2 linked regions of the Homo sapiens genome follow. The protein of the gene in region 2 interacts with the protein of the main gene of each other region in a pairwise test. Each region holds a gene or a part of one and is shown on either strand. Other genes may lie near its edges.

Region 1 (3,650 bases), on a different chromosome or scaffold from region 2:
CCTCCTTTCATGCAGATGATCTGGGAAACTGAAAACAGGGTAAAAGGAGACCTCGGGGGGAAGGAAGGTTACCTAGCTGTTCCTGCATTAAAGGACCTATGAGATGGTCTATAGCAGCAGCAGGAGGGATTTAAGCTAGATGTCCAGAAGTATTTCCCAATGGGAAGGCTGCTAAGCACTCTCCCAGGACAGGAATGTGATCTATGACTCACAGGTCTTATACTCTAAGTCCCCTGCTCAGCCCGCACTATGTTTATATATACGTATGCACAAGCTTGACTTTTCCATAAGTACACACAATTGAGGGAAACTGGTCTAGTATTTATTTGGTGAAACTTGATGTCCTCTCCCCTGGGTGCTGGGTCATGGTGCTGACCAGGCATCGCCTGAATGACTGGATTAGCAGCCATGTCAACAAGCCTTTGCTCTCCAGACAATGTGCCAAGCTGTAGGTAACAGGCTGGGGACACCAAGTCCCAAAGGAATTATAGAGATCGGTAATAGCCTAGTGGAGCACACTCTAAACGCCAAAGGTGTGGCTCAGCAGGAACCTAGCAACTCAGAGGGAGGTGTCCAAGAAGCCGATCACGGAGGCTCCGAGTGGGGAGGGGAGACTGCAGACCCAGCTTGAGGTGCACCTCATGGTTGTTTGGTTTCTAATGGGGGAGTTCTGGGCAGGCCCAAGAGGAGACATTTTGGGGTCCCTGGAACTGCTCTCTTTTCCCAAGAATCTGTCCTGAAATGGGTACCCAGAGCCACAGGCCTGTTAGAACTTGTCACATGGAGAACATGACTTTTAATTAGGGACAAGGTCTTGAGGAAGGGGCCTTCGCAGAGTCTCTTTTGCCCCCAAGAGCCTCTCACAGGCCAAGGATGGGGCTCCAGGAATCCCTAGCCCAGTGGAGAGCAGGGTCAAGGAAGGGGTAAGAGTTCATCCATCTGCCCTGAGATGGCATTTTATCTCCCAGAAGCTGCAGGCTCAGCTGTCCAGGCCCTCCTGGGCCAGGACCTTCTGGACCGAACACAGGCCCCAGTCCTCCTCCCCTGCAGGTCCAGGCTTAATGGTTTTACATGGTGAACAGTTCTCAGGGACCCAAACCTTGAGCCTCCCTGGATTAAATGAGGCTGAGCCCCTGAGTCTAGAAGTAACTGGGGGGCCTCCTTCCACCCTCTACCTCCATGTAGGGCTGCAGAAGAACCAGCAGGAACAAATATGGCAATTTAATTTTTACAGTTTCCAGATGGAAAGAAAGGAAACTTGTTTTAAGGGCTGTATGGCATGATGGTTAGGAACAAAAGGTGAAGGTTTGATTGCTAGCTGTGCCATCTACTAGCTTGTGGCCTTTCACACACGCACACACGCACACAAAAAAACCGTCAAGGATGAATGAGGGTTGATTTGATTCTTAAGGGCCTAAATCATCTGGAGAATGGGGACAAGCAATAACACCAACCTTGCAGGATTGACCTGAAGAATAAATGAACCAATAATATAAAATGCTTGGAACAACACCAGCACGTAGTAAGCACTAAAACGAAACAAACAAACAAAAGAGCTGGCTATTATTACTAAACACCCTTCCGGCAATGGCAGGGTCATCATTTCCACATAGGAAGAGTTTACAGCAGTGAGTACGTGGAAGGAAGATCTTCAAGACTTGTTTTGAAAACCGATTTGCACAGCAAGCAAACTTTTGTTCCTTTTTCAATTTTTTCTTATGCTGTAAGAGGATCACGGACATATTTTCTTCATAGAGTTTAAATGAAATGATACGTATAATGTGCTTAGAACTGTGCCTGTCACTTAGCAAGCACTCAGTAAATCCTACTTGTTTATTTGGGGTGGCTGGAGAGAGTGCTGGAGATTATAATGAAAGATATACAGTAGGGGCACCATTAGGCCCCCACTATGGCCAGGATGCCTCTTGTTAGGAGGTTCTGTTCTGTTCCATAGTCAACATTAGTCTTCCCTGCTATGGGGTAAACTGGCATTTAGACATAAGAATTTCCAGACAATCAATCAGGGTGTCAGACCTGGGCCAAGCTCCCAAGAAAGCTTCCTGCAGCTCTTCCCCCGGAGGTGCTCATTGGTCAAAAGAATGCACATCATGACCTCTGAAAGGTCCTTGCTGCCTCAGGACTCTGACTGCAGCATTTGAGCTCCTGGTCCAAAGACCAGCGCTATCCAGCCCACAATGGATGAGCTGGGTTTATGGCTGGGGAGAGACACGGGAGCTGGAATGTAAAACAAATGGACCGTAAGCACCTTGTGTGCTCTCTCTGGCTGTGGAGTATACAGACACACACTTTCACCTGCTCCCCTGCTCCAGGCCTGGCCTGGCCCCCTCCCAGAGGGGCCCCCCGGATTGGAGAAAGGGTCAGAGGACTCAGGAACACTGGGAGCACTCCCTTTACCATGGTAAGGAGTTGAACACACTATGCTGCCTCTGAAAACAACAGAACAGCAGAGTCAGCCTCGCCCCATTAGCCACCCACTCGGGACACTTTACCTCGTGGATCCCAAAGTGGGCATAGGAGTCGAAGTAATAATCTCTCGAGGTCATCTCCTCTGGGTTCAGCAGCTTGGACATCTTGCCCCGTCCTGGGCAGCTGGGTTGAGTGGACACATGATGGACGCATTGCACGGGCTTAGCAGGGACGACGGGCTGGGGGGGCTGGGAGGGGGGGCTGTTCACCTGAGGGGAAGAGAAGGGGGTCGGGTGTTAGGAGAGACAACGGGGTCCCGCCCTCGGAGGCTTGCGGTCCTCTTTCCTTCCCCCTCCCTGAGCCCGGCCTCAAGCAGCCACAGCAGCCCTTCCTGAAAGGGAGGTAGGTGAGCCCTTCCAGCTCCCAGCAGTTGGGCTCATGGCTGTGATCTGTCCAGAGATGGCAGTCCACCGAGGAGCCACACACACCTAGATTTCACCCACCTTCAGCTCTTATTAGCTAGGTGACCTGAGCAATGCAGGCCTCAGTTTCTGTATCTGTGAAATGGGGAAAATAGTATCTTCCTTTGAAGGCAAATAGGAAACATTCAATAAAGGGAAAGATGCATAGCACAGCATGGTGCCTGAGAGTGTAGATTCCGGAGCTGAATCCCAGCTCTGCCATTTCCCAGCTATACAACTTTGGGCAAACTTATGAACTTCTCAGTGCCTCAGTTTCCTTTTCTCTAAAATGGGAATAAAATGGTCCCTGCCTCCTAGAGTTGTCCTGAGGATTAGACAAGTTTGTATTTCAAAGTGCTTAGAAAAGGGCCAGGCATATAGTAAGAGTTTGTTAGAGGAAACGAAGTCCCACCTGCATCCTCAGGAACGTGAACCCATGGGCTTCTCTCCACTCAACAGGCAGCATCAAGCTAGAAGAGGATACGGCCCCCAAAATGCAGATGTCTTAGGTTCTGGTGTCTCCTACCTGTTGTCTTGCCCCCTAGTTTCTGATTCACAGTTCTACCCTGAATTCAGCACTGTGGATACCCACACTGATGGCCTCCACACAACCAATTATTGCTATTTCTGGGTGCCCCAATCCTGAGGCCCAGCCCAGCTCTACACCCACTGCTGCTGCCCATCACTGTCTGCTCCCTGGTCCTCCACAGGCTAGGCGGAGCAGGGAGAAGGAGATGGGGGTCCACAGAGCTTCTGGAGCCC
Region 2 (3,650 bases):
AATATCTAAATCATTATATATCAATAAAAGGGGGGGAAAATAAATATGAACATTTTTCATGACTAGAAAAAGTCCTTTTAAAATAAAGCTCTATAAAGTCTACACATTTGGAAAAAGGTAGACAATATTATCTTTATACTCTGTGGTTAAGTATGATAGTTTTTATTTAAGAACTATGGCTTAAATATAACATAAGCCTCATAATATCTGTGAAATAAATGTCAGTCTCATATCTTTAGGTAAACTGAAATATATGAACAGATACTTCCATCAAGAAACTAAGAGAAATTGGGAAAAATTTATCTTATCTCTAATGCTGTATTTTTAATGATCAGACTATGCTGATTTCTCTTTAACTCAATTTTACAATATTACATTTATAACGCTGGGAAAATAACATTTATGGCACTATGGCATCATGATACTACTTTTCCTACCTCTTCCAGACTATTCCTTAATACAAAATCACTTGATAGAATGCTTATAGTTGCCCTCTGACACCCTATTCCTATGGAGGATAAGGCCAGAGAGGTTCTCTGTAAGGCTGTATGGATTGTTACTTACGAAAGGCACTTTAAGTATTTTTCATTAACGTAGTCAAATAGTCCTTTTTTTTCTCAGCGATCTGAAGTTAAGTTACAGACTTCATTACATTTTGCCCCTAAATACTTCAAATGCCACTTTGGGAGGTCAAAGTGGGTGGATCACTTGAGGTCAGAAGTTCGAGACCAACCTGGCCAACATGGTGAAACCCCATCTCTACCAAAAATATAAAAATTAGTCAGGCATGGTGGCGTGCACCTGTAATCCCAGCTACTTGGAAGGCTGAGACAGAAGAATCGCTTGAACCTGGGAGGCAGAGGTTGCAGTGAGCTGAGACAGCCTGGGTGACAGAAGGAGACTGTCTCAAAGAAACAAAACCTTCAGATGCTTCAACATACATCTCTTTAGAATAAGGGCATTTCTCACAAAACCATAACATTTTATACCTAAGAAAATTTATAGTAATTTCTTAGTATCTAATAGCCAGTCCATATTCAAACTTCCCGAATTGAGGAATTTATTTTTAATTAAGATGGTATTAAATAATTACACTTGGTGAGATAATTCTTTCTTGATGTTTTTCTCCCTGACCTTCTTTCTTAAAATTGAAGCCTACAGACAAGATGAACACAATAAACATTCATATATTTTTCAACTTGATAACCCAAAAGGTGGCTGATTTGCCACCTTTTTCTTTTTCTTGGATATACCATTTGAAAGTAGATTGTAGATAAAAGTCCTATTTTAATGCTATTTTTATAAGTGACAAACAGTACAGAAGACAGGCCACATGGTAATGCTCATAGATATTCTAAGTAGATATACCTATTTTTCAAAAAGGAAGACACATTTATTTGAGGAAATGCTGATGAGTTGGCAGCATTCCCTATAATAATTCTTAGAAGACTATGCTCCATCAGAGCAAGAGCTGTGTATCTCTCTTTTCATTATTTTATTCCAGTGCCTGATTGTCTATTGACCTGAATCATTATTTGTTAATAAAAGGTCATGGGGCAGGAAGAATGCCTAAGGATAACTGTCAGCTGGGACTTGGGGACTCGGTTCAACATCCAAGTTCAAGTACTAGGGTCCTAATCATGTTAGACATATACCTCACCACCTGTGACAAATTTAGAGACTTATTTGAGAAGTATAGGGACAAACTGTAAAAATATTTATTTATATGGTGTAGTTTTAAAGTAGAAAAATTAAATATATAGTATTATCTTCTTTAAAAAAATTAAATATATAGTATTATCTTCTTTAAAAAAGAAATCAAGCCAATAATAGTTTCCCATTTCTATCACCAAGCTGAAAAAGTTAAAACATTTCCAAATAAAACAATGTTAACTTTAATCTCATTAAAGTCAAAACGAGTTTATTCAAGTCAAAAGATAAAACAGATTTGTCATCTACCTCTTGAGTTGCTATTTTACGATTTAGTTCAGCTACTTTGGAAGAAGAATTTTCTACTGCATTTTGGCAAAGGAGTTTCTCTATTTCTCTCTGATGAGATGCTTTGAGGGATGCAATGTGTGCTGCAGTATCTTCCTTGACCCTACAGAGCAAATGAAAGAAAACCACACATAAAAGTGGCTCTTCAACCTCTAATTCAGAGTTAGCACAAAAACAGTAGAAGAAACCTGGGAATTAAGCAAGGGGAAAATGGGCACCAATATTAACTGCACTGTGTTAGGTGCTTTATACATTACTACTGCCTATGAGTTCTTATGACCAATCCATGAGCTACTATTTACTGAATTTTATAAGGGCAAACTTGAGGAAATAGTGATATATCTCTACTTTACCCCAACCTGAGGCTACACTTTCTGAGGGAATCTAGGGTTCCAAAAGCAAAGCACTTGACATTTGATCTTTTAAGATAAACTCAGATTTCTTGCCCAGATGCTTCTTTGGAAAATCACAGCTGTTCCCTTTAGAATCTCCAATGCCTTGTAGGCAGCATTAACCAATTTTCAACCCATGCATGAGACTCCAGGGCTAGTTGCATATTGTGAGAATGAGACAATCTTTATGGTAATTCTCAGGACATATTATGCTTGTAATATGCAATTAATTAATTGGACTGTAAGTGTGAAAGACTATTCATTTGTCTCTGTGATAAAATTTATTCAGAGGCAGTTCAGTAAATGGTTAAAATTATAAATAAAGATTTGGTATATTTCCTACAGATAAACATTTTCTCTCTTATTGGAAAGACTTTGAAAATAACAGCATTTAACTTAAAGCATGTATTTTAGTAAACTGCTGTTGCTATATATTAATATGGTGCTTCCCAACTATAGACAAATTTATCCATTGCTTATTTCACCATATGAATATTTCTCCATGGAAACAGTGTGAGTAGGGTCCTAGAAAAAGCATAAAAACCTAAATTAAAGCACATATAACTGAATGATAGTAAAAAGTCTAAATATTGGACTAGAAAAGTTTATTCTTCACTTCTCAGGCCCAGACTTATCTAAGAAACAGATTGACAATATTAACAAATTTTAAATGATGTACAGGAAAATTAATTGGAAAACCTGAATTTTAAATTCTTTCCTGGAAAAAATGTGATTCTTCTTAAAGAGCTTCATGCTACTGTCATAATATTCAGGACTTAAGAAACAAGCTTTCCATTTGGTAGCAATATGACTGCCATATGGTAACAACATGACTCACTCACTGCCATGGCTGCCAGTCAATAAGCATTTGTTGGGTGTTTCCCATGCTCATTCTCCTCCTACAGCACATTGCTGTGGGGATGCAAAAGCAGCATAATCTTACACCAGTTCTCAAGGAACTACAAGGCTGTGTATGATTAATCCTTTCTTGGTACATATTAGTAAGTTATGTAGGAGTTGGGGGTAGGAGAAGGCAATTTCCTGGGAAGTTCCACGAAATGTTTTGTGAAGGTAGTACTTATAACAAGAATGAGGAAAAGGCATGAGGAAATGTGACAGATTAGGTAAGTAGAGTAGTATTAGAATAGTGATGAGACTTGAGATGCTAGGCAGAGAAATTTAGTCTTGATATTTAAGGAAGTTGAGAGTCACCGGAGAGCAGAGTGACCCAGGTATATGAGTATTTAAAGAATATTAATG

Evidence for each region.
Region 1: the proteins of CEP162 (region 2) and PRMT8 interact in a two-hybrid assay, tested with the Homo sapiens proteins (one large-scale study listed by BioGRID and IntAct).

Annotation. Positions count from the first base shown.
Region 1 is NC_000012.12:3,539,652-3,543,301, reverse strand, and holds part of PRMT8 (protein arginine N-methyltransferase 8), read right to left. Parts: intron 2,697-3,650; coding exon 2,511-2,696; intron 1-2,510. UniProt on the Homo sapiens protein: S-adenosyl-L-methionine-dependent and membrane-associated arginine methyltransferase that can both catalyze the formation of omega-N monomethylarginine (MMA) and asymmetrical dimethylarginine (aDMA) in proteins such as NIFK, myelin basic protein, histone H4, H2A and H2A/H2B dimer.
Region 2 is NC_000006.12:84,147,603-84,151,252, forward strand, and holds part of CEP162 (centrosomal protein of 162 kDa), read right to left. Parts: intron 2,102-3,650; coding exon 1,960-2,101; intron 1-1,959. UniProt on the Homo sapiens protein: Required to promote assembly of the transition zone in primary cilia. Acts by specifically recognizing and binding the axonemal microtubule.